Regions from separate parts of the Homo sapiens genome. Here all the other regions are linked to region 1. Evidence: fine-mapped expression QTL. A gene starts in region 1. Each other region holds a variant in brackets. All regions are shown on one strand. Distances are between the middles of the regions.

Region 1 (5,099 bases):
TGCCAGTTGATTAATCAATTGAAATCAATACCCTGGCTTCTAATCAATAATAGAATCTAGGTAGATTCTAGATTGCAAAATTCTTTTGACTTTTCTGAAAGTTTAAACCTTTTCATAATCAAACACTGGGAAAAAATTAGTTAAATGAATAAATAAATGAGAAAATGAATCGCTTGGGACCTGGGTTACATTCTCTCCCAAGAATCATACAGTACAAAAAGATATGTGGCACTATCTTTTTGAAAGAGGGGTAATGGGATACAGAGTCCCAAAAAGGAAAGGAGGAAGAGCTTACCTTTAGGGTTCAAAGTAAATATTTTGGCCTGTAAACAATTCTAAGCAATTTAAAGACAACCAATAACTAGAATCAGACTAGAGAGAAAAAGGTAGGAGGTAAGTTCCAACTATATTGGAAAGATAAGCTGCTAAGAATTTGCTTTTTCAGGCTCCAAGATCTAAGGACACAGTCCTTCCCCCTCTTTCACTACCACCACCCTGTCCTGCACCCCAGGGTCTGAGTTAAAGCAATGAAAGCATGTGATTTCATGTTCAAGGTTATACCTCTAATATCTCTTAAGGGAGAGCAATCTCAATACCCTGGTTTCAGTTCAGATACGCTGTAACAGCTGTCTTGTGAACTGTCTATTAAGGCTTACATCTTTGAGCTTGCAAATATAGTATAAAAGTTCAAACTCCACTACTGTTTTTACCAGGAAAGTACAGTTCTTAGCTTTTTGCCCAGCTTACCTCTCTCACAAGTCAATATAGACGTTAATGAGTCATTGTTCTAGAGGTATCTTTCTAATTCTGAGAAGCTTGCCTACTTCTTTTAAATGTTCTTAGTTCAGTCAATGAAAATCTCACATTATAAAGCCATCGGAAATGGTAAACTAAAACAATCATGTTTGCTCTTTAGTGAACCATACTTCCTATTAAGAAGGGGTCACTGGCCAGGCACAGTGGCTCATGCCTGTAATCCCAGCACTTTGGAAGGCCGAGGTGGGAGGATCACTTGAGGTCAGGAGTTCGAGACCAGCCTGGGCAACATGGCAAAACCCCATCTCTACCAAAGATACAAAAATTAGCCGGGCATGGTGGTGTACACCTGTAATTCCAGCTACTCAGGAGGCTGAGGCACAAGAATCCCTTGAACCCGGGAGATGGAGGTTGCAGTGAGCAGAGATGGTGCCACTCCAGCTTGGGTGACAAAGTGAGACTCTTGTCTCAAAAAAAGAAAGAATGGGTCATTACTATTTACCTTGAGTATTTGGGTGCTAATAAACAGATATCTGATGATACCTGGGGCAAGAACTGAGTTCCTCCCCTCTCATTGCCTTAGTTCTGTGCATCCCAGGGTAGTATTCAACACTCAGTGTTTCCTCTGACAAACTAGATGCTTCCCAAAACAAAAACAAACTCATTTTTAGAATTCTGTTATATTATTTGCTTCTTGTTTTTATTTTTTGTGGGGAGTGAACTGGTAAACCCAGTGGACTTTCTTAACACTCTTCTAAGTCATTCAAACTGTCAGTCAAAACCCACCTATTTCTCAGGCTAGTAGAATCCCACTATAAAGTGATTTATAAACTGGATTTATATAAATTGGGGGATCAATTGCCCCTCCCAAACAATCATCTCCTATAAAAGATTAATAAAACAACATCTGGTTAAGAACACTGACACTACATTATAAAGGGTTGCCCCTGTACTTAGACTAGCATGAGGTACACATCTAGAATGCCCAGTTAGCCAAACGGTCTTGACGACCATGCAGACTTTCATATGCCAACAAAGCCGGTGCAGTGTACTTTTCCAAAAGTGCTCCAATTCTCCTTTTGGACAACTTTCTTAAACGTTATTTACCAAGCTAATAAAATGTATTCTCAATGGACTTTTTACTCTGCTTACATCTTTGTTCTTACTCATCCCAAAGCAAAGAATGGAAAAAAAATGAGTTGTACATTTAGCCGGGGAAGGGAAAGGCAAGTACTGAGGGGCTCCTTTTTCATTTACTGATGCCAAAACTGAGGCTGTGGAAGATAAGTTACGTCCCTGATGTCATCCAAGTAGTGGATACCGGAACCAGGAATTGCACAGAATTGTCCAGCTCCAAAACCCAAGCACCTTGCTTGGGACCCACTGGGGTTGCAGTGAAGGTGGGGGGCTCAGAGGTGACTGCACACGGGTCATGCATAGCCACAGTCATTATATGGCCAGAGTTTTAAACATTATTTTGTTCTGTCTTCACCATAGACTTCATCATCAATCATAACTGATAAGGAAAATTACACTTAGCTGAAAAGCCAAGTCCCGTGCTAGGGAGGCATTTTCTGTATGTTATTTCTATTTCCAATAAAACAATTCTTTAAAAAGAAAAACTTATTATCTCCATCTTTCAGATGGAAAGACTGAGGTTTAGTAGGCTTAAATAATTTGCCCGAGGTCACTCACTAGCCAAGGCCAGAACTGGGATTTAAATCCACAAATATTCCAAAGTCCTTTTGTTTCTGTATCACTTCACAGGGAGCTGCTTCCACCTGTCTCCTGTGCCCTTGGTTTCTGCTAATCCTACATTCCAAGAATAAAAGTCTTCCTATGCGTTCCTAGGCAGAAGCCAAGTTTCCCTGCTTTGGGCACGTTCAAAATAGAAGGTATTTTCCGCTTCTCTTGCTTCTGAGCACCCACGAAATCAACACATCCCCAAAACACGCGTTGAGGGAGTAAGGGAAAGTGTCCTGCACCCGCCACCCTCCCGCGCTAAGAGCGGCAGAGGACCCCACAGCTTCGTACTTCCCCGGAGGAGCTCCTGGAGTAGGAGACGGCTTCTAGCCTGGAAGAACCCCGGGTGCGACAGTTGTGCCAGGAAACTTCAAGAGTATTCCCTCGGCTGGGCGCACGCAGTACATCCCCAATGCTCCAATTTGAACTTTGACTCGGCCACGACCACCCCACTCCAGTCTCACTCTACGGTGCTTTCTCCCCTGTTGGTGCTGAGGGCTTTTGAGACTACCTGCCCCGCGCTCCCTAAGTCCGAGGGACCGAGGCGAGGACCTGTCCCGCTGAGCTGGCACGACCCACGCAGGGCAGGCGGCACTTACGCGGCGCAGTCGGTGCTCCTCCCTGAGCCGCGGCGCGCAAGGACCCCAGCCGGTTGTCCTTGCAGCGCTTCCCAAATCAGGCAGAAGTGAGGCAGCCCCACCCAGTCACGAGGACCCTGCAGAACTCGAGCCTTTAAGCGCTCCTCTAGGCTCACATGACCCAGACCCACAGGGCAAAAAGTGCGTCGTCGTGTCCCAACCTCCTGGTCCCAGAAACCTGGCCGCATCAAGTCAGCGCTTCCCATGCTGGAAGAAGCAAGCAGCCCCAGGGTGGAATCTTAAAAATTAATGAAGAGCATCGGCGGGGTGCCATTCAGGTTGGTTTGTCCCTTTGTTTTATTTTGATTTTGTCTCCCAGTTTTTAAAAGCTGCTATCTTAAAATTTCAACCCTGTATTTTGAAATTATTTCTGCACTCTAGGACTTACTTGCAAGCCCAGGATTTACATTTGGAAAGCGAGTGGTGTTTGATTCCCACTGTTTAAAAAGGCAACACACGTTCGCTGATGGTCTACATTCCAGCTGCACTAGCAGTAAGCTCGCACCAAGTGCCACTGTCCTGCCAAGCACTCTCCTGAATCACTGCGCTGGAGTCTCAGAGCCACCTGATGTGTTCTGTACCATTATACCCATTTTGCAATTGGGGGACACAAACTAAGTGAGGTTAAGTAACCCATCCAGGGTCACATTGCTTGTAAGTGACCTGAGTGTATATTATTAGCCACCACCAGGTGCTGGGCATCGAGCCAGACAGTACGGGAGCAAGAACTAAAAAAGGCAAGGAGGTTGCAATGGCAAGTAGATAACACAAAATAAAGGAGGGTCATCATTATCAGCAACAGCAGCGTCAACTGCCAGACAGGTGGGAGAGGCCACGGGGAATCTTCTGCACTGTCCCGGGCCAACCTCCATCTCCTCACAGCTAGCTGCAGGAGTGAGCCCAGGGAAACCCGCAGTAGAGCAGCCCAGCCAACCCGACAGTCAGGGGGAAAAATTGTTTTAAGCCACTTTCAGTTTCGCGTAGTTTGTTATGCAACTAAGGCTAACTAAAGCACTAGTTTTACGAGCTGGAACAAACTAATGTCACTGAATATCTGTTTTCTCCTAAGTACCTACTTTATTGGGTTGTTGTGAGGACTCACTGAAAAACTATGTGTAAATCACCCAGCACAAAGTATGTGCTCAGTGACTGCAGTCATTCTTTGCTATCATACCTTCCATATGGAAGTACTTCCTACCCACCTAGCTCTTTAAGGAGAAAAATCTGTTTGTGGGAAAATAATTCTTTTAAGGCCAAAATCAGCCCACCTTTAATATATGCAGGACCCAGGGCAAAAGTACAAACAGAGATCTGTAGGCCAGATACCTAAATATTTAAAAGTTATAAACAAAGTTAACAAATGATTAAGTACAATAAGTTCTACCTTCCTACCTAGACAAATATACCTTGGGAATTGACATGAAAGGCCAGATTGAAACTTTGGATGATCTGCACTTAAATATGATGGTGCAGGGAGAGGCGATTTCCAGTTCCTGGTTTGCAGCCACCTCCTCTCTTCCCACAGGGCTCTAGTCCATTGGTGGAAGCTCGGTCAAGCTTCCCAGAAGCAGCTGTCCCCCAGCCACCTCTTGGGCACAAGAGTATGAACACCAGAGTCAGCAATGTTCGCCCATGGGAGTACAGACATTAGCAGATAACACTGCTGCTGGCGTGCAGACCCTTGAAGCAGGCTCAGTGCCATTTGGGGAGGGAATTTGGAATTTGCCTTCTAAAGTGTGGGCCCTGGACAAGGGCTCCTTGGGTCTAAGTATAAGGACAACTACTGGCCAAAGAATACCTGTGCCCACGTGGAACCACTTAAAAACTAAACTGAATTTTACAGTAAACACAGGAGGAGCCATGCTGTAAGCATATTTATTCAAAAACAGGGTGTCCCAAAAGTCTTCCTGCAGTTTTAGTAACCTCAAGGCTATAAATGCTGCAACTTATAAGAACACCATT
Region 2 (5,107 bases), 33 kb after region 1:
CCAGCACTTTGGGAGGCCGAGGCGGGAAGATCACAAGGTCAGGAGATCAAGACCATCCTGACTAACACGGTGAAACCCCGTCTCTACTAAAAATACAAAAAATTAGCCAGGCGTGGTGGTGGGCGCCTGTAGTCCCAGCTACTCGGGAGGCTGAGGCAGGAGAATGGTGTGAACCTGGGAGGCGGAGCTTACAGTGAGCCAAGATCGCGCCACTGCACTCCAGCCTAGGCGACAGAGCAAGACTCCGTCTCAAGAAAAAAAAAACAGATAAAAGAAAAAAAAGACCATGACTATTTATTTATTCTGACTACAAAGATCCAGAAGAGAAGTCAAGAAGGCCAATAGGTCCTGAGCAGGATAAATAAAAATAAAGTCACATTTAGATACACTGTAGGAAAGCTTCAGATTCCCCCAAACAGAGAGGAAAAAGAAAAAAAAATGCCAAAAAGAAATAATAACTAGATTAATAGTGGACTTCTTATTGGCAGGAAAACATGTCAGAACACAATGGGTATGTCTTCATTAGCAGTATGTCTCTTCAAATTGCTGAAGGAAATTAACTGTCAGCTTGAATCCTATACAAATCTAACTTTGATTCCAAAGGAAAGACAAAGTAAAGACATTTATAGACAAAAATTGAAAGGGATTACTACTAAGACACCCTTACAAAGAAGCTTTAAAAGGGTATTTTTTAGGAAGAAAAAAGAATACAGAAGGAAGATCTAATATACAAGAAAGAATTTTGAGCCAAGAAAATGGGAAACTTCTGTTTAAACCTAAATTAACGTTGACAGTATAAAACAACAAATAATGGCTAACTTCTGGTGTTTAAAAAACGAGATTGAGCTGAAATACTAGAAGGAAGAGCATATAAATAGGAAGCCAGGAAGGAAAGGGAAAGCAACCTCTTGCTCTTTCATCATTGGTCAGAATGGTAAGAATATGGATAAACATTAGGCTTCGTTAGCTTATATGTTAAAATGCCTAGGTTAACTTCTAAATGAATAGAAACAGTGTTTATAACTTCCAAATAAATACAGAGAAAATGGGAATGAAAAAAAATCATTTAATACAAAAGAAAGCAAGAAAGAGAGGGGAAAAAATATAGATGGAAGAGGCAAATATAAAATAGTTATCTCCTTAAGATAAAATATTTTTAGTTTAGTGAACATTGTCTTCTAGCACAGAGACACTAAAAAATTTACTCACTGGGAAACTTATTCCTTTCTAATCTTCAGATTGCTTAAAGTAATTTATACCTATATAGGAGATCTTTTTCTTTTTTCTTTCTTTTTTTGTTTTATTTTGTTTTGTTTTGTTTTGTTTTGTTTTGTTTTGAGACAGAGTCTCACTCTGTCATCCAGGCTGGAGTGCAGTGGTGCTATCTCTGCTCACTGCAACCTCTGCCTCCCGGGTTCAAGCAATTCTCCTGCCGCAATCTCCTGAGTAGCTGGGATTACAGGTGCACACCACAATGCTGGGCTAATTTTTGTATTTTTAGTAGAGATGGGGTTTCACCATGTTGGCCAGCCTGGTCTCAAACTCCTGACCTCAAGTCATCTGCCTGCCTTGGCCTCCCACAGTGCTGGGATTACAGGCATGACCCACCGTGCCTGGCCCCCTCACTTTTTTTTTTTTAATTTACTGGCTTTTCCTCTGTCCCCTCATTTTTTCTCTCTCTCTTTTCCTTCTTCCATCTGTTTATCTATCTGTCCATCTATTAATATCTACCTATTTATCTATCTGTCCATCCATCCATCTGTGCAGTCATCCATCCATCCATCCACTTTACCAGCTATACCCCAACCCTCTTTACTTCTAAACACCTACCCATCTCATTATGCTCCCACCTATCTATCTGTTCTTTCATTCATTCACTTTATAACCAAAATCTTTTTTTCCAACCCAGACCTCTCTCCAAACCTTGCTACTTGACATCTCCTTAGACATTTCATAGGTGCCTCAAACTTCACATGTCCGAAACACAACCCTCGGTTCCATCCCCACACAAAGTTCCCCCTCCCCAAGCCCTCACCATCACAGCAAGTGGCACCACCAGCCATTTAACTGCTCAGCTAAAAACCTAGGAGTCACCTTGATGATTGTTTATCTCATGCCTCACATTCCATCATCAGCAAGTGTTGTCAGATTCTACCCTAAGTCTGATGGTGTCTTGCCATCTCCACTGCTACTATCCTCTGTCCACACCATCAGCCTTTCTTTGAAACCACTGGAATAGTCACATAGCCACCGTGCACCCTGCTCTTCTTACTATCCTTTTCCATAGCTGCCAAAGTGATCTTTTCAGTATGAATCAGAACATGTTATCCCCTTCCTAAAAGCTTCTGTGGCTTCCCATTGTGTCTAGAAATAAACAGAAAGTCTCCACTATGACCCACGTGGCTGCTAGGATCTGACATCTACTCAGCCTCTGACCTGGTCTTCCTCTGCGTGCGGTTTCATTCCTTTGACGCCAGCTCCACTGGCCGCCTTTCCTGTTCCTCTAACATGCCCAGCTCGTGTCTGACTCAGCCCTTTAAATCTGCTGTTCCCTCCTCCAGACCTGCAAGATCAAGTCTCTGCTGAAATGTCACATCCTCCGAGAGAC[G/T]TTGCCTGACATGCTGTTTTATGTTCATCTGAACACATTTTTCAGCATTTGAAGTTATCTTTTTAAAAAAAGCAGTTCATTGTCTGTGCCTCTTAAGGGCAGGGACTTTGTTTATTGTTATATTCTCAGGGTCTATACCTATGCCTGGATCATAGTAGGGGCTCAGTTATTGTTTGTTGAATGACTGTTTGGCATTAATTAATTAATTTCACAACTTGGAGTGGAATTAGCCATCTGCATTCATATGAAAAATGACTTAAATCCCTATGATATATCAAATTAAGGCAAATAATCAGCCAATAAAAATGGGTTTGCCACAAATTTGACCAATCAAAGGTTAACTACTATGTAAAGAGTTATTACAAACTAATAAAAAGAACACTAACACACCATTTAAGGGACATTATAGTCCAGGCAGGACCCCACCTACCAGAGCTAACCAGCATTTGCACCTCCTCAGTTATGGTTTTGAGGTCTCCTGCCTCCTTAGGATTATAGGGGACCCAGCATCTCTCTTGGTGTCAGAAAACAGGAGGTGATCCTCCAATATCATGCTGACACACTTACAGTCCTCATGGACCCTTTGAAAACAGCCCCTCCATTTTCTTTTTGCCAAGCTTGGGCATAAGGCTTATTTGTGTTAGGCCATGCTGCCATCTTGGGAGAACCCTTCAGAAGGCTCCATCCCCTCACACAGCACTGCATGAGAGTGGGCATGGGATGCCATCCTTAAGAACCACCCCATCCCACGCCAAGTCATGAGGAAGAGTGCTCCCTTCACTCTTTGCTAGATCAGTTCTGCCTTCCTTCCCACACAGTGTCAGCCTTCTTCAGTCAGCCTTGTTGAAGAAAAGACTCCAGAATGCTCTGCACAGAAACTCAGGCTGAAGTTTTGCAGTCTGAGAATTTTTTGACCACTCTCAGATGCTAGAAAATCCAGGAACCCAGACTCAACACAAATTCTTCAGGAGTGAGAAGGAAAGATTCTGATACTTGTCCTAAGTCTTCTTCATAAGCAAGAACAAGGCAGATGTTAGTAACACAAATGATTATTTTGCTATATATCCTTTGCCAAATAGAATTACTCTGATATATGTAAATAAATATTCTCCTTTTTCTAAGTAGAGAAACCATCAATAATTACCAGGTTTTTTATTTCTCAAATTACAAAATACTTAATAGCTATTCTATTTTATATCAATGCAAAACACGGGTAAGAACTGGACATTTGTGGAGGGGCTATATAGCATTTATGAGGTTCATTTGTTTTCTTATGCTTTGCAAAACTGAGTTAGTGCATGTGAGGATTTATTTATTATTGCAAGCAAATCAACTTAAGTATTACAAACAAAAAATCTGGTCACTGTTATTTTGAAAGCATTAAGATAACTTACATTGCTAAGCATTCTATTGATCTTTTGCTATTTGTCTTGTATTTTCAAATGATTATATTTCCCTGCAGACAGTGGAAATATCAATGAGAAATAAGATGTCCTTTCATCAATGATGTAGGTTATTTCATTTCCAAATATTCACATATTATGCTTACATGTGTTTCATTCTTAATATTCCGAAGTCAATCTGTTCCCCAATAGTTTTTTTATTAGAAAGGAAAATATTTCACATCAAACATTTTAATAATATTGTGAATCAAATTTAGAATATTTTTAAAATGTGATAACGTACCAATAGTGACATCTAGGCCGGGTGTGGTGGCTCACGCCTGTAATCCCAGCACTTTGGGAAGCTGAGGCGGGCAGATCACAAGGTCAGGACAGATTGAGACCGTCCTGACTAACACGGTGAAACCCTATCTCTACTAAAAATACAAAAAATTAGCCAGGCGTGGTGGCACATGCCTGTAGTCCCAGCTACTCAGGAGGCTGAGGCAGGAGAATCACTTGAACCTAGGAGGCGGAGGTTGCAGTGAGCCGAGATCGCGCCACTGCACTGGGCGACAGAGCGACAGAGCGACAGAGCAACAGAGCAAGACTCCATCTCAAAAAAAAAAAAGTCATCTAAATTGATATAAAAATGACTTAAATCTGTATAAATCAAATTAAGGCAAATGATGAGCCAATAAAAATACCTTTGGCACAAATTTGACCAATTAAAAGTTATTATAATTACTATGTAAAGAGTTATTACAAACTAATAAGAAGAACACTAACACACTAATTAAGGGGCACTAGAGTCCAGTGATTAAGAGCTCAGGCTCTGGAGTTAGAGCTGGGTTCAAATCCAGGCCCTGTCACATTCTGTGTGATGTTGGACAAGACTCGTATCATCCGTATACCTCTTGGAGTTCTAATTTGTAATATGGAGATAATAAGCATGACTGCTTGCAGTGTAATTGAAAAGAGTACGTAAGATCATACATAAACAACTCTTGGTACCAATCACTGGTACCCAGTACTTACTATTATTTTGCCAAAAGAGATGAATAGGCAGTTTGCAAAAGAAGAAATACAAATGACTAGTAGACATAAGCAAAAAGTT
Region 3 (5,107 bases), 31 kb before region 1:
TTCTACCCTCAAACGGCAAGCCAGGTCTTGAACACTGGTGTTCTTTCTGTTGGGCACCTACCTGAGCTGGGAAGAACCAGAAGAAGAGGTTGCTGTTGTAAGTCTTATTCACGGTGAGGAAGCCGGCATAACTCTTCATGTTCAGTCCTGGGAAAGGGCCGACCAAACTCAATTCTCTTCCTAGTGGGGGAAAAAAAATTTACCCAAGGATTACAGAAAACAATAACAACAAAAATGTGAGCCATCTATCTCAGTCTGGATGAAATGGAGTGATTAGATAAGCTAAAAGGGAACTGGTATGACAGGTAGTTCCTTCAGCAAATTCCAGCCTGCCCCTGGCCAATCCCACATAGTCCACGTTCACAATTTAGCCAAGGATATGTGAAAGTTTTAAGCCTTTGGGGAGGGGTGCCCAAATATATTTTATAAGCTGTAATAAGGTTTTTTTTAAGTTCTTTTAAAAAGAAGAAAAGAAAATCTCCTATCATTACACCTTGCATAAACCAAGGTGATCACCTTGGGCCACATGGAAAGGAGCAGGATAAAGTAACCTGACCTGAAACAGTGGGGTGCAAGAGTAACAATGTGGTGAAGCAGCTCTCGGCCTCGCCCCGAGAAGGCCTGTGTCCTTCACGCTCTTGTTTTCATGAAGGCAAAAAGCCTGTCACATCTACTAAGAGGAGTGGGCTGAGGCATATGGGAGTGTGGGTGGCTGTGGACATTGGGGAAAGGTGGACAGTGGTGGACAGTGGGGAGACTGGGAGTGACCTCATGGCTACTCAGGGGGAGCCAAATAGGACAATGGGGCAGTTGTGGGGGCCAGGGGTCCTGGCGTTCTTATGGCACCATTGGGACAGGCACAGGGAAGGAGTAATTGGGGATGCTTAGACAGCCAAGGATGCCCAGGAGTAAAGAATGCTACTAGGAGCTGACATTTACAAGGCCAGAATACCAGGGCTTTACATGATGTGGGAAGTATAATTCTCATTCCCACTTTACAGATAAGAAAGCTGAAGCACAGAGAGGTTAAGTGACTTGCCAGCTAGTAGAGGAGAGCTGGGATTAAACACAGCAGTCAGGCTGCAGAGTTTGTTCCTTCCCCCAGGGCTTTCAACTAGAGTGAGTCAGAAGGTGCAGGTGGCAAGGAGTGGGAAGGGAAGTAGTGGTCAGGAAGGGAGTGGCAAAGGAACAGAAAACAGCAGAATGTGGTGGCGAAGTAAAAGGGAAAGTTTGGGTGAAGAAGAATCCTTTAGTGGTGACAAAGAATGTGTCCCCAGTAGGAACCAGTCACTCAAGAAAAGCGATGTAAGTCTGAGCCATATTAAGTTGGAGACTGGCTAGTAGGTCAGGAAGCTTGACTCCTCACATGCCATCGACTAAAGATGCCTTTGACGGTAGGTGGAGCCCTTAGGCTCTGGAAGGCTAATTGTTAGCATCTTTTCCCAGCTCAGCATTCAGAGACATTGACAGGATAAAATAAGCCAAGGTGACAATATTAACACTCAAGGGAATAGATGCTACAAGTCAGGGTCCTGACTGCAAGGGCTGGTTGCTAAACTTTTACCAGCACACTGCTGTTTTGGGACCACTAGTTCCTATTTTACAAGGCCAGAATACCAGGGCTTTACATGATGTGGGAAGTATAGTTCTCATTCCCACTTTACAGATAAGAAAGCTGAAGCACAGAGAGGTTAAGTGACTTGCCAGCTAGTAGAGGAGAGCTGGGATTAAACACAGCAGTCAGGCTGCAGAGTTTGTTCCTTCCCCCAGGGCTTTCAACTAGAGTGAGTCAGAAGGTGCAGGTGGCAAGGAGTGGGAAGGGAAGTAGTGGCATGCCTCTTAGCTGAGCATGGTGGCAGTGCTTGTAGTCCCAGCAACTCGGGAGGCTGAGGTGGGAGGATCACTTGAGCCCAGGAGGTCAAGGCTGCAGTGAGCCATGATCATGCCACTGCACTCCAGCCTGGATAACACAG[C/G]GAGACCCTGTCTCAAAAAAAAAACATATATATAGGCATGCCTCTCAAAAGGAAAACCTCTCATCTAGACCACACAGTTCCTTTGCTGATCCTAGTGCTCCTATAGACCAGCTGGTGACCCACCATACAGGCATTTAACCTCCCTGTTCTTCAGTTTCTCCTCTATGGAAGATGTACTGCCTGTGGGCCACCTGGATTAAAAGAGCCCCCACATGTAAAATCTATATAAAGAAGCTGGCAGGTAGGGAGCAGAACTACTGTTGCTGTCTGTGAAATGCACCTGCTGACTAGGAACAGGGAGCACCTCTGAGCAGAGGAGGTCATGGGGACAAAAGAAAGGTCTCAACAGGTGGTCCTTGAGGGTCCTGTTAGGCTAGCACAATAGAAGAGCATGGGTTTCCTAGCCTGACAGACCTGGGTTTGGAATCCTAACTAGATTAGGACTCCCCAGCAAGTTGCTCCATCTCTCTGAGCCTCTTTCCTTTTATGCAAAATATAAATACTGATTCCGCTATCCTGGGCTTTCTGTGAGGATCAAACAACAAAAATGCATATGAACCCTTAGCCTAGCACTGCACATAAAATATGGGTTCAGTCAATTGGAAGGGAAAGTTATCATTAGCCTTTGGCCACTCCAAGTGAAGTCTAGAAGAATTTCCTTTTTCTGGCTCAGCCTGGTTCTCCCAGGGAAGATTGCTTAATGCAACCTCTGTTGGTCTTCACATTCTGTTCCCAATGAGGTCTATCCCTCCTCCATCAGAAAAAAAGCCAGAGAAAAAGAGAGAGAGGTGAGGATCTTATGAGAAAGAAAAGGGAGGTGTTTGGGGAAAGTGGTTTTTGCCACTCCTCCCCTCCCACTCTTCCCGCCATCTGTCGTTTTTCTTCTCCCTTTCTTCACTTCCACTCTTAATTAGCCCAGAGAAAGATCACCCCCCAGGGCTGGGCAGCCTTTAAAATGCTTTTGAAATATTTTTAGCAAAACTATTAATCTTCTCAAAATCAAACAGATACCACCCCCTGCCTCCCAAAAAAAAAAAGGAGAGTAGAGAAGTAAAAACTGTGGATTGGAAATGAGTGAGATGTGGACCACAGAGAGGTAAATGGGAAGAAGAGGATTTGAGAAAGACAACACAAAAATGAGAAAGGTCAAAGTATAATGAGAAAAAGAGAAAATATATAATAGAAAGGAGCTGGAGGGAATGGAACAGAGGAAAGGATGATTCAATCAATCTATCTCTCCCAAGACCAGCACCACACAGGGTCCACAGACTGCTCTCAAATGATTCAGATGTTCACTCATCCCTCCCTTCCTGAGGATGCCAAAGTAGCTTCTCTACTACCTTTTACTTGAGTATGTTTCAGACCTTCCCTCCTAGGTCAGGAGGTTGGAAAGTGGGGAATTTGTGTTATTTAACTTTGCATACCTTGGGACTCGGCATGCTGACTTACACACCTAAGACATTCAATAAATACTTTTTAATGAATGAATGTTAACAAATGAATGGATGAACAAGTCAATAAATGAATGAACTAAAACAAGCCCTACTGACAAGGCACCAAGATTGGCTTATTTCTACAAAAACCTCCTAAGGCAGACCTTGCTAAAAGATCTTAAGAAATTTAGAACTTTTCTCTAGCCCATAAAAAAAGTTTTGCCCTGTTTCAAATTTTAAATTTCCACTAACTAAATCCCAGTAAAATAATTTAAAATGTCATCAACTAAAATGACTTTTTATATTTTCAAATGTCCTGTGCATCCTTCTATTAATGGAATGTGGAAAACAAACTCCCAAGATGGAGGAGTTTCTATCTTTCCAGCACCATGACTCACAATACAAATGTTTAGAACAGTTTTAAAAAGGAAAAGGTTTTCTTTGAAGTGATTTTACTTCCTCCTTGTTTTTTACTGCTGCAACCAATGTTTGTGATATTAACACTTTCAAAAACATTGGAATGTGACCAACAAAGGGCTTGAACCAGCTAATCAGCATGCATGCCAGATTCACAAACACTCAAGTTATCACCAGTGTGGACAGACATTATCAGATCATAAGTAACAATAAATTAGGACCTACCAGTAAAATAGTCTTTAAAGTGTGAAAATGCAGTGTTTATAAACAAGCTAAAATGTGCCTCCTACTTCATTTTGTTTCAGGGAGTAAAGATTTATTCTAGCTTCAGAGAAAGTAAACATGCAATTACAATTACATAAAACTAAGCCAGCTAAATGAGGATTTAAAAATTAAAAATTTCCCTTGTTTTTTTGCGAGCTACTGTTTATCTCGAAAATGTTCCATTGCAATAATAAGACTCACGTTCCTAGGGTTTTGACAGACTCGATAAACAAAAGGGATTTAGGGGAGTGAGCTGACCATCTGTCCAGAGCTTCCTGAACTTTCAGCAAAGCGGATGAATAAAATTATCCTTAATTATGTTGTCAGGGCTACATTTGAATACCCAGATGTACCAGATTTTGAATCAGCCACTTAAAATTCTGTTCAAAGAATTTGACTGTGTAACATAACTTCAGGAAGTGATATTATACACAGATTTAATATTTTAAATGTTGTCAATCATCAGATGAAGATCTACCAATCTTGACATGGGAGGGTGGAAGATAAAACTACCTCCCTTGGAATCTTTCTTGGCTGCTGCTAATACCCATAACTGAGAAATGCTCATAGGCAAGAAAGACAAGAACAGGAGAGATGTCAGTAGTCTCTCAGATGGATTTCTCTGTATTCTTTTTACTTGGTTCCACCAGATGTATGATACAGAAACACCATGGTCACTTTCACTTAATGCCTTTGTTTAAGCTGTTTCTCTCATTTGGTACGCACAGACCTTTCGCTATTTACGTAAATCTTACCCGACACTCTGAAGTCCAGAGCTGGTCATACAGCATAGTGGTTCATATCATGGGCTCTGGGGTTGGCCAGTATAGGGTTTAATTCAGAGCTGCTCATATAGCATAGTGGTTCATACCATGGGCCCTGGGGTTGGCCAGTATAGGTTTTAATTCAAGCTCTGCCACTTACTAGTTTTATGGCCCTAGGCAAGATATTTGATTTCTCCGGGCCTCAGTGTTCTCATTTGTAAAATGGGAACAATGCTTATGGATTCTTCATTAGGGT
Region 4 (5,107 bases), 160 kb after region 1:
TTAATAAATAATAGAGGATTCACAAAGCAGCAAATGTAGAAGAGATGTGATGGGAAGGCAAAATTCCTTTGTGAGGTGTCACTTAAGAGAGTGCTGATTGGTCAGAAGATGAGTATAAACTGAGAGGAGGGGCTGTGGCAGGAAAGGGGGACCCTGGGTGTTAAAGCCCAAGGCGATAGAGCACATGCTGAATGAACTGTTATATCCTTGCCCTGTGACACATTCATCCCCAGGAACAAATGTCCAGGGAATCTTGTGTTCAAGGTGATTTTTCAAGTGTATTGTTTATTATTTAAATGTAGCAAATCACTTAATCCAGTGTAATCAGTATGTAAGAATTGCCGTGAACTCCCTCCTGTCCCAGTAGCTTTGTTAGCATCCTTGAGGGCTGACAGCAAACTTAATCAGGCCAGCTTGAGTGGAATGGCTTTGGGTGATTTGCATTCTGCAGAATTGCCAGATTCCTGTCCTCTAACACAATAATGAGTGTTTCCATCCAGTGGTGTGAAGCATGTGGAATAATTAGCTCTCAGCGTTAAAGATGTGACTAGTAACGTCCAAGCCTCCTTCCTCTTAAGAGTATGATTTTCTTATGGTGACATTTTCAAGAGGACATCCGTAATCTCTCATTTTGGGGACAGCAGGAAAGAGATGTGCCTGGATATATCCTATCAGTGTTCGCTGATTCGCCTTCAGCTAAATCATTTAACCAGACCAAGGGAACTGAGATTTGAGAAGCTCAGTTGTCTGTAAATCTAATGGTTCCCAACTTACAATCACTTCAGATGTTTTGAGGGGTCTGCAGCCTCTTTTATACATTTTTAAAAGCCTAATAAAAAAGCTAATGGAATAATTATCTATCAGTAACTACATAATAAGTTCAGTTTGTTTTGGAGATCAGATCTTTCAAATCATCCAGTTTGAAGGGAAAGAATAAAAGGAGTCTATGAGTTACAAGGTTGGTGAGTATGATTAGTCAACATCAATTTACAAGTAATGGTATTCCTACTGTGGTGAACCGAATAATGGTCCCTGCAAACATGTCTCTGTTCTAATGTCTGGACCCTGTGAATATGTTGTTACATGTCAAGTGGGAATTAAGATTTCAGATGAAGTAAGATTGCTAACCAGGTGACCTTGATTGAGATGGGCAAATTACCCTGGATTATCCGAGTGGGCCAAGTGTAATCACAAGAGCCCATTTAAGGCAAAGTAGAGTGTGAGAGTCAGAGAGTCATTGAAGGATGCTCTGCTGCTGGGTTTTGAAAAAGAGAGGAAGGGACCAGGAGTCAAGGAAGGTGGACAAAATAGATTCTTCCTTAGCGTCTCCACCCAGCTGTTGAATTTGCCTCCTGGGCACACAGGAAGTCTGCATGCCCAGCCCTTCACATCCAATTGGGGCCATGTGGAATGTGGCCCAGGTGATGTTGCTCAGAAAGAACCCAGCCCAGAAAACACCTTGATTTGAGCCTAATGAGACCTATTTTGAATTTTTGACTTCCATAATTCAAGATATTAAATTCTTGTTTTTTTAAGCCACTGAGTTTGTGCTAATCTATTAAAGCAGCAGTAGAAAACTAATGCATTTAGCACTGCATCTTTCTGGATTTTTGGTCATTTTAAATAAATCAGCTAATAGTGTCTACTGGGTATCTCGGCATACAAATAACTGTGTCAAAGGAGTTGGAAAAGTATGGAGAATGTAGAATAAATCCAAACTCTAATTGTTGTCTACAAGCTCCTGCTTTTTCTCTCCTTCCTGTCTTTCCAGCCTTACCTTATGTTACGCTGCACTCTCTCAGCTCCCACTCCTCCAGCTGTCTTTCCATTCCTCAGACTTCCTGCCGTGGGCCCTTGGCTCATGCTGTTTCCTCTGCCTTGAATACCCTTATTCCAGATCTTCCAAGAACCGGCTTCTTCCCATCTTTTAGGCCTTAGCTTAACCCTTCCTCCTCTGTTAGTCAGAAGAGTCTAAGTGCTATCACTTACAACCCAATATCCTAGTGGTTTAAAACAATAAAGCACGTGTCCCTCACGTCACAGTGCAAGGTGGTTGGGGTGTGTGTGTGTGTGTGTGTTGGGATAGGAATTGGGATTCTGCTTTGTTCCACACAGCCACCAACCATTCCAGCTTGTGACCTCTCTTTCCCCCGGTGCCTTCTCGGAATCCTTAGCAGGATCTCTGCAGTCACCTGCTGAGGAGCAAGGAATGCGTGGAGGATTGTGTGGGCTGGGCCTGGAATGAACATCACCTGGGCCACATTCCATATGGCCTCACCTGGATGTGAAGGGCTGGGCATGTAGTCTTCCTGTGTGCCCAGGAGGAAAATTCAGTAGTTGGGTGGATAATAGCCCTGTTCTGCCCTTCCTCAGAGATGCCTCTTATAACCGTGCTAAGCAGATCTGTCTCATTAGCCTCTATGAAAACACCTTATTTAGTTCCTCCATTGCACTTTATACTCAATAATTTTTTGGCTTCTTTGTTAATTGTGTTCCTCTCCAAGACCAGAAGGGTGTGAGGATAGGAACATGTCTGTTTTGCTCACTACTATGTGCACAAACCTGGCAATGCAACATCTTGCACAGAGTAGATTACCCACCAAGAATAGTTTATTAGTATGTGATGAATGGATGATGAATGAATGACCCAACAAGTGAATGAATGGAAAGCATAGACCTTGTCTAGAGGGTATCCACTATTATAGCAAGGACAGAATAAATAGGTCATAGTCTTTTACAAGAATAAATTTCAAGAAGCAGCCAAAAGCTTTTTTTTTGTTTTTGTTTTTGTTTTTAGAAATAAAGGACTTTGGCCTACGGTTCAAAAAGTGTTTGGAAAGTCACCGCTCTTTGGGTT[G/T]TAGAATTTGAGTCCAGTCTTCCAGATGAGCAGCCTGAGAGTAGCAGTGCTCTCCTTATTTGGGTTGATTAATTCTGCTCTTGTATTTCTGAGAAAGTGTAGACCCTTTCAGATACCATCCTAACTCTTCCCCCACCCTTCCCTTCTCCACTCATAGAGGACAAAGCATTTGGCTCCTCTCCTCCTACCACCTGTTCCTATTAATATATTCACAGTGGCCCCCGGTGGTGGGAGCATGCCACCTCAGATGAAGGAGTTTTCTAATTTTGCTTCTCCTTTTCTTTCCCATTGTCATTGTCCTTTCTGGCTTAGCATGAGCTAGTGGCATGTGGCAGTCTGAGAAGTGGAATGCCTAACCCAAGGAAATAAATGATGCATAATCAAATCCAGTTGCGTAACTTCGGGAGTTTGTGTTTTCTTCTGTTGATTCACGAAGATCAAGGAGCTGATGGGAATAGGTTCTGGCCTTGCCACCAAATGTGCTTCTCCTCCCATTTTCTGAGTAGGGCTCCAAGGGAGGTGCTGGGCCACTTTGCCACGCAGGCTGGTTGCTGCCTCATCTCCTGCAGGTGAGGGTGGAGACCTCGCGGGCTCATGGGCCCTGCTGTGGCTGTTACATGGATCCAGGTTGTCTAGGGTCTGGGGAATGCTGCTGAAGGGGCCCAAGTGCCTGTACCCTGGAAGCACTGGCCAGGCAGGACTCCCTGCCTCAAATGGGCCTCTCCCACCTTGTTCTGTCTCTCATGGGGCAGGCACATGGCATTTCCTAGGTGGGGGGACCAAGAAGCTGTGGCTGGATTAATTCTTGTGAAGAGTACAATAAACTACATTTAACTTACTTTCCCTTACTTCAACATGGTTACACGGATAAAATACATTAAAATGAACACTAAAATCAAGTATGTGGACAAAGATGTATCAACAGGAATGTTCAGTAATAGAAAAAAAACTGGAAACAACTTATACATTCACATAAGGGAGGAGATAAAAATAAATTATGATACATCCATAGAGTGGAATACTTGAAGCCATTAAAATTGAACATGTAGAAGAATATTGAATGAATATAATCACATTCATGTTTAATTTTTAAAAATCAAGCTGCAAAACAGTGGGTACCATATGATCCTGTATTTGCAATTAAAATGTATACAAATATAAACAATGGAAAATATAAAGATTGAAACGGGATGCTTAGTTCAGTAAATGGGATTATGAGTGATTGTTGTTTTATTCTTAGTGCCCAACGGTAGTTCCCAAATTTTCTGTATTTAATACATATTTGTTTTGAAAGGTGATATAAAATTCTAAAATGGTATTTTAAAAATTAGATGACTGTCTTAGTTCATTTGGGCTGCTATAACAAAAACATCACAGAGTGGGTGGCTTATAAACAACAGAAATTTGTTTCTTACAGGTTTGGTGTCTGGTGAAAACCCATTTCCTGATTCATAAACAGGGCCTGTGTCCTCACTGTGTCCTCACATGGTGGGAGGAGGAAGGTGGTTCTCCAGAGTCTCTTCTAGATGGCACTAATCCCATTTCTGGGGGCTCCACCCTCATGACCTAATCATCTCCCAAAAGCCCCTCCTTCTGACACCATCACATTGGAGGTTAGGATTTCAACATAAGAATTTTAGGGGGATGCAAGCATTCAGTTTATGACATTGACTAAATTCTCCAAATAATTACTTGTTTATTAAAAAGAAAACTATTGAAAGAATTCTTAAACAACAAAACAAGTCATTAATGTGCAATTTAAAAAGCCCCATAACCTGCTTTTCTGTCTGTCCTCAGTACAGATGTTTTCCCTTCCTACTGCACACTTAATAAGTCTCCGAGCCTTGTAGATTCATTGTAGATTCAGCCTTGTTAGCATCTCTTGTATCCAGTCCCTCCATCATATTCTCCCTGCCCCTGCCTTTGTCACCTGTTGATGGGACTCCCTGCCTCCTGGCTTTCACTTACACCGTTCCATTGTCCTTCCTGTCACCGACAACCTGGCAAATGTGATCCATCTTAAGAGGTTCAAGGGCCACGTGTTCTCTTGGAGTCTTTCCTGGCAGTCCCCACTTTTGTCTCCAGAACTGATCCTTCTTTATGCCTCACTCTTTGTTCTGAATCCTCTCACAGAACCTTTTAATCTCTACTGCGCTTCCTGACACTTACTTTGTGCCAGGTACTTTATATTTCTCCCGTATCCTGGCTGTATCCCTGTGAGGATCATAGCCCCACTTCACGGATGAGAAA
Region 5 (5,107 bases), 82 kb before region 1:
TTCTGATTCCCGTTCTGAACACTGAGGTTCAACATCATTAACAGACAAGCCAAAGATAATCACTATCCCAAGCGCTTTGCCAGCTGCGTGAGTGAACATGCTGTCTGTTTTAGCAGCAGCCACTTTTTGGTGGCATATTTTGTTCTGTTTCTTTATGGAAATATGGTTTATCTATACCACTAAACTCTTTTCTTTTTCTGGCAACCGATTCAGAGTTGAAAAGTTTATGCCAGACACGGTGGCTCACACCTGTAATCCCAGCACTTTGGGAGGCCGAGGCGGGTGGATCACCTGAGGTCAGGAGTTTGAAATCAGCCTGGGCAACATGGTGAAACCCTGTCTCTACTAAAAATACGGAAAAAAAATTAGCCAGGCATGGTGGCATGTGCCTGTAATCTCAGCTACTCAGGAGGCTGAGGCAGGAGAATCACTTGAACCCGGGATGTGGAGGTTGCAGTGAGCCGAGATCGTGCCACTGCATTCCAGCCTGAGCAACAGAGTGAAACTCTGTCTCAAAAAAGAAAAGAAAAGTTTAGAAAATACTGGATTTTGATTTTATTGGAATTCATAGTGGTAAGTTTAGGATACATGGGCAAGAGGGACAGAGAAGTTTAAATATCAAAATGCAGGATCACCTCTAATCAATATATTCTCCTTTATCAGTCAAAACATAAGGAGAGTTTATGTCATCAGGTAAGCTGTTTGTCCCACCTTACCCTCACATGGCTGAGAAAGGAATCATATTCTAGTTAAATTTGTACAGTGAGGCCAGGTGCGGTGGTTCATGCCTGCAATCCTAGCACTTTGGGAGGCCGAGGTGGGCGGATCACCTGAGGTCAGAAGTTTGAGACCAATCTGACCAACACGGAGAAAACTCATCTCTATTAAAAATACAAAATTAGCTGGGCATGGTGGCACATGCCTATAATCCCAGCTACTTGAGAGGCTGAGGCAGGAGAATTGCTTGAACCCAGGAGGTGGAGGTTGCAGTGAGCCAGTCGCACCATTGCACTACAGCTGGGCAACAAGAGCAAAACTCTATCTCAAAAAAAAAAAAAAAAAGTGTGTACAGTGAGAAAATATATCTCCCAAGGGCACAAATAACACATATCAAACTTATCTGCTCTCCTCTCAAAAAAATTCACTCGTTCCATTCCTTAACATCACATTACAGAACATCATCTTTAAGACATGAACGCTAACCTCTTTTTGGTTTAATAAATTTGTGGATAATAAGCACCTAATGGATTATGGACAGGTTTATAGATATATTTTTGATACAGCACTAATCATTCATTCATTCCTGACATCTGCTCCAGGCTGGTGGTGGTATGGGTGTCAGACTGAGAGTCTGCACGTTAGAGTGTGCCATGTACACCTATGGGGGTAAAGACAACGCGTTCTGAGAGCTCAGAGGAGAGGACAAACAGCAGTGCCTTCTGGAGGTCCTCTGAGAAGTCTTGAAGCAGCAAGCACTAAGGGCCACTACATGTCCCCAAGAAAACCAAACACAAGGATGGCTGAAATGCTGGCCTGACCTAGTTAGACTCTTTCTTTCCAAGAAAGTAAGTATTTCATCAAGTTTTGCAGGTTTATAATGGGTTTGTAGACTTGGCATATAATTGGTCTTAAACTATTTTCAACAATGGTTACGTGTCCAACACTGTACTAGAAGCAGGACCCAGAAATGGGCCTCCTAGGTCTGGCATATTCTAAACCACAGTCTAGTTAGGGTGCATTGGCCAGGGACTGCCTGGATAGTATTGCAGATTGTGCACTGAACAATCCTAAGACACACCATTCCTAATATACACATTGTAGAAATGAATATTCAGCATGCCAGCAAATGGCAGTAAAGAGTCTGGTTTTAACTAAGGCAGTATATCAGGACAATTTCTGAAAGATCGAAATAAAGTATCTTGAGGAGAGGATGCCTTTATTCTAATTCATACAAAAATCCTATGGGCTGCCGACTGCCCTGTTTTTTGTTCATTCAAAACAGGATATAGGGAGGAAGTGGATCACTCAGTGGTGGTCTCCCCAGTCATCAGTACAGGCATCCTTCGGAGTTGCCCTAGAGACGATCCCTTGGGCAAAGGCTAACAGCACTGGAGGACCAGAGGAGGAGCTGAGAGCGTAGTACCAGGAAAGAAATAATACACAGGCTGACTTTCCCCATGTCATTTGCTCTTGGTGTCCTCCTTCCCAGTGGGAGTTCCAGGGCCCATGTCTTCTTTGCCTGAACCTCCAGGGCTCCTTTTCTGTGACCTCACTCTCCACTGGCACCTCCACTGGCAGCAAAGGCAGAGCATTTCAACCAGACAGCACAATGGCTTGACTTGACCTACTTCCAAACAGGGACCCTTTCTCATTCATCATTTCAACCTCACACCCTAAGGAGAGACTCAAAACACTGTGATTGGGTAAAGTGAATGAATACAACCATTAGGCAAAATGCATTTTCAGAATAACCAGTTGATTTCATTTATCCCTGACGTCATTGGGATTCATGTAACAAAGCAACACATAAGAGAAATCTGGCTCTTACACACGGCCAGTCATCTTTTTGGCTCTGCAACTCTTCCTTTCTCAAGAAAGGATGAGAAGTGGTGTGTGCCAAAGGGAATTTCATTTTAAGGAATAATCAGGGGAAAGTGGTTAAATTATTTTATTTTATTTTTATTTTTTTGAGACAGAGTTTTTGCTCTGTTGCCCAGGCTGGAGTGCAATGTTGCGATCTTGGCTCACTGCAACCTCTGCCTCCCGGGTTCAAGTGATTCTCACGCCTCAACCTCCCAAGTAGCTGGGATTACAGGCACCCGCCACCATGTCCAGCTAGTTTTTGTATTTTTTAGTAGAGAGAAGGTTTCACCATGTTGGCCAGGCTGGTCTCAAAATCTTGACCTCAGGTGAT[C/T]CACCCGCCTCAGGCTCCCAAAGCACTGGGATTACAGGTATAAGTCACCACAACGGCAAAAGTGGTTAAATTAAAAGGAACAATATAAAACTTTGAATTGGAATCAAACAAAGAAAGGGGCTGTTATTTATGCTAATGACACATCATAAAAGTTAAAAAAAAAAAAAAGGCAGGACTCAAATTACAAATCACTTCTGCTCTGGGTAATCTGAAAGTTCCTAAAATAGTAACTGAAGTAGCTCTCTTACCTTATAATTATTCATGATTTCAGTTAACCATGGCTTAACTGACTGTACTGTATCTTCTCGCAAGTACTTTTCAACTATAGTTCCATCATTAAAAGTCTGATTCCCCACGTGGATGGCTTGTCTCACCTCTGGGAGTGACAAAAATTTCACATAGTAAAGCTGATCCTCAGGTTCCTGGCAGAAGGGGCATTGGAAAGACATAGGGAACATGATTGGTGGCAGGAACAGTATGTTGGGAAAAGCTGTGAATTTCTCATAACATACAACATGGAGAAACGTGACGGGACTATTAACTTGTCGCCATTCTTGAAATTTTAACTCGGAGGTTTTGAGATAATTTAGGTGGAATCTTTTTACTAATTAGAAATCTGAAATACCCTTAAAATACTCTTAAAATACCCAATTTGCAAATACAGGATTTTCCTTTGCAGAAACTAATCTTTTGCAATCTGTGACTCCCATTAGCAACCCCACTAGAGGCAAAGAGAGAGAAAACAAAAGAGATGAGATTATCAAAATCAATTCACTCCTTGTTGGTGGCTCTTTGGAAAGAAGGTCAAATGGATCACAAGGGCCAGGTTGGTGGTGTGCTGGATTTAAAGCTAAGAATTTCTTTTCTGTGTTCTGCTGTTTATTAAAACCACACACATGTATACATGTGCCATGTTGGTGTGCTGCACTTATTAACTCGTCATTTAGCATCAGGTATATCTCCTAATGCTATCCCTCCCCCCTACCCCCACCCCACAACAGTCCCCGGTGTGTGATGTTCCCCATCCTGTGTCCATGTGTATACATATGTAACAAACCTGCACGTTGTGCACATGTACCCTAAAACTTAAAGTATAATAATAATAAAATTAAAAAATAAAAAAAACCGCACACACACACAAAATTGGATTGACTATAATAAAGGGGAAAATATGTCAAATGTGAAAAGAGATGATACTTTATGAAGGACACAAGACAGAAGAAAAGTTGTCCATGAAGCTTATTAAAAAAAAAACTGCAATAAAGTCTCTGTAATAATCATTATACTGAAAGAAAGGAGTAAATGCTTTAAAAAAAAAACAGTTACACAAGGATTAAAAAAACTGTTAAAGTTTGAGTTTGACAACTTTGTGCTTCATCAACAATTTTTACTAACTGTGAATATATTGTTGTAAAGAAAAAAAGGTATCATCACAAATTTTGTTTCTGTCTTGTCTACCACATGTTTTTCTCTTAGTAGAATCTAAATCCAAAACTGCAGCATTGGCGAATTCCACTGAAACTAACGTTATACTTTATTTACAAACTAGTTCATAAATCAGGCAATTTTAAAAACAGAATGCATTGTCATAAGCATTAGACAAAGATTATACAAATTCAAACACCTACTTTGGCTCCTTCTGTTTGACTAATTCTACACAAAAGATATCAACTTTGGCCTACTTTTATGAAACAAACTACTTGAATACTTTGAGAAATATTCCAGAAGGCTTGAAGTGAGGGCCATACTAAATGCATTAAACATCTTAAAAGTAAGACAAAGCAAATATTTTCATTAAGGCTTTGGCAGTTTTGATTATCCAAGCGTCTTAAGTACAGAACAAAGAATGTGGGCATTTTCAAGAGACTCGTAAACAGACTTGAAGCTCTGGGACCTGAGACCCAGAACTCCAATCCCAGCCTGTGTCCTTCACAAAAGTGCCTCTATAACAAGCTCTACTTGGGGGAAATCATGTTCATCAGAAGTTGTTTTGAGTTATCTGAAATATCACACATTCTCAGTGGTCAGATTATAACGTATACAACACTGATGAGGAAAAGATTCTATGGGTTAGTAGACCACATCACGCGGTACAGTTTGGACATGTTGGTCTAGTATAAAGTCATCTATAATATTTCCCAAATCAAAGGAAGTTCGGTTTTGCCAAAAGTTTTAAGCAAACATTATTATGGT

Which allele goes with the higher level. Alleles are on the strand shown, and positions count from the first base shown. SD is a standard deviation of normalised expression in the study named. Not every link is listed here.
With allele T in place of G in region 2, the expression in nucleus accumbens of the gene that starts at base 3,207 in region 1 is lower (moderate effect, 0.42 SD a copy in GTEx).

Evidence for each region. PIP is the estimated chance that this variant, and not a neighbour inherited with it, causes the effect.
Region 2: its variant is fine-mapped to the expression of CPVL in nucleus accumbens (GTEx, PIP 0.99).
Region 3: its variant is fine-mapped to the expression of CPVL in whole blood (INTERVAL, PIP 0.96).
Region 4: its variant is fine-mapped to the expression of CPVL in hypothalamus (GTEx, PIP above 0.99).
Region 5: its variant is fine-mapped to the expression of CPVL in thyroid (GTEx, PIP above 0.99).

The regions. Positions count from the first base shown.
Region 1 is chr7:29,143,331-29,148,429 of GRCh38, forward strand. It overlaps CPVL (carboxypeptidase vitellogenic like), which reads right to left and starts at 3,207. Exons shown (of 13, transcript NM_031311.5): 1 at 3,099-3,207. It also overlaps a transcript of CHN2 not described here.
Region 2 is chr7:29,175,935-29,181,041 of GRCh38, forward strand. It overlaps a transcript of CPVL not described here and a transcript of CHN2 not described here. Among named protein-coding and RNA genes, the nearest start is that of CHN2, 16 kb to the right of the region's middle. The variant G/T (reference allele first, on the strand shown) is at 2,609.
Region 3 is chr7:29,112,643-29,117,749 of GRCh38, forward strand. It overlaps CPVL (carboxypeptidase vitellogenic like), which reads right to left. Exons shown (of 13, transcript NM_031311.5): 3 at 62-180. Among named protein-coding and RNA genes, the nearest start is that of CPVL, 31 kb to the right of the region's middle. The variant C/G (reference allele first, on the strand shown) is at 1,974.
Region 4 is chr7:29,306,405-29,311,511 of GRCh38, forward strand. All of the region lies in intron 1 of CHN2 (chimerin 2), which reads left to right. Among named protein-coding and RNA genes, the nearest start is that of CHN2-AS1, 100 kb to the left of the region's middle. RefSeq lists an enhancer at 3,428-3,996. The variant G/T (reference allele first, on the strand shown) is at 2,858.
Region 5 is chr7:29,060,899-29,066,005 of GRCh38, forward strand. It overlaps CPVL (carboxypeptidase vitellogenic like), which reads right to left. Exons shown (of 13, transcript NM_031311.5): 11 at 3,163-3,336. Among named protein-coding and RNA genes, the nearest start is that of CPVL-AS1, 17 kb to the right of the region's middle. The variant C/T (reference allele first, on the strand shown) is at 2,915.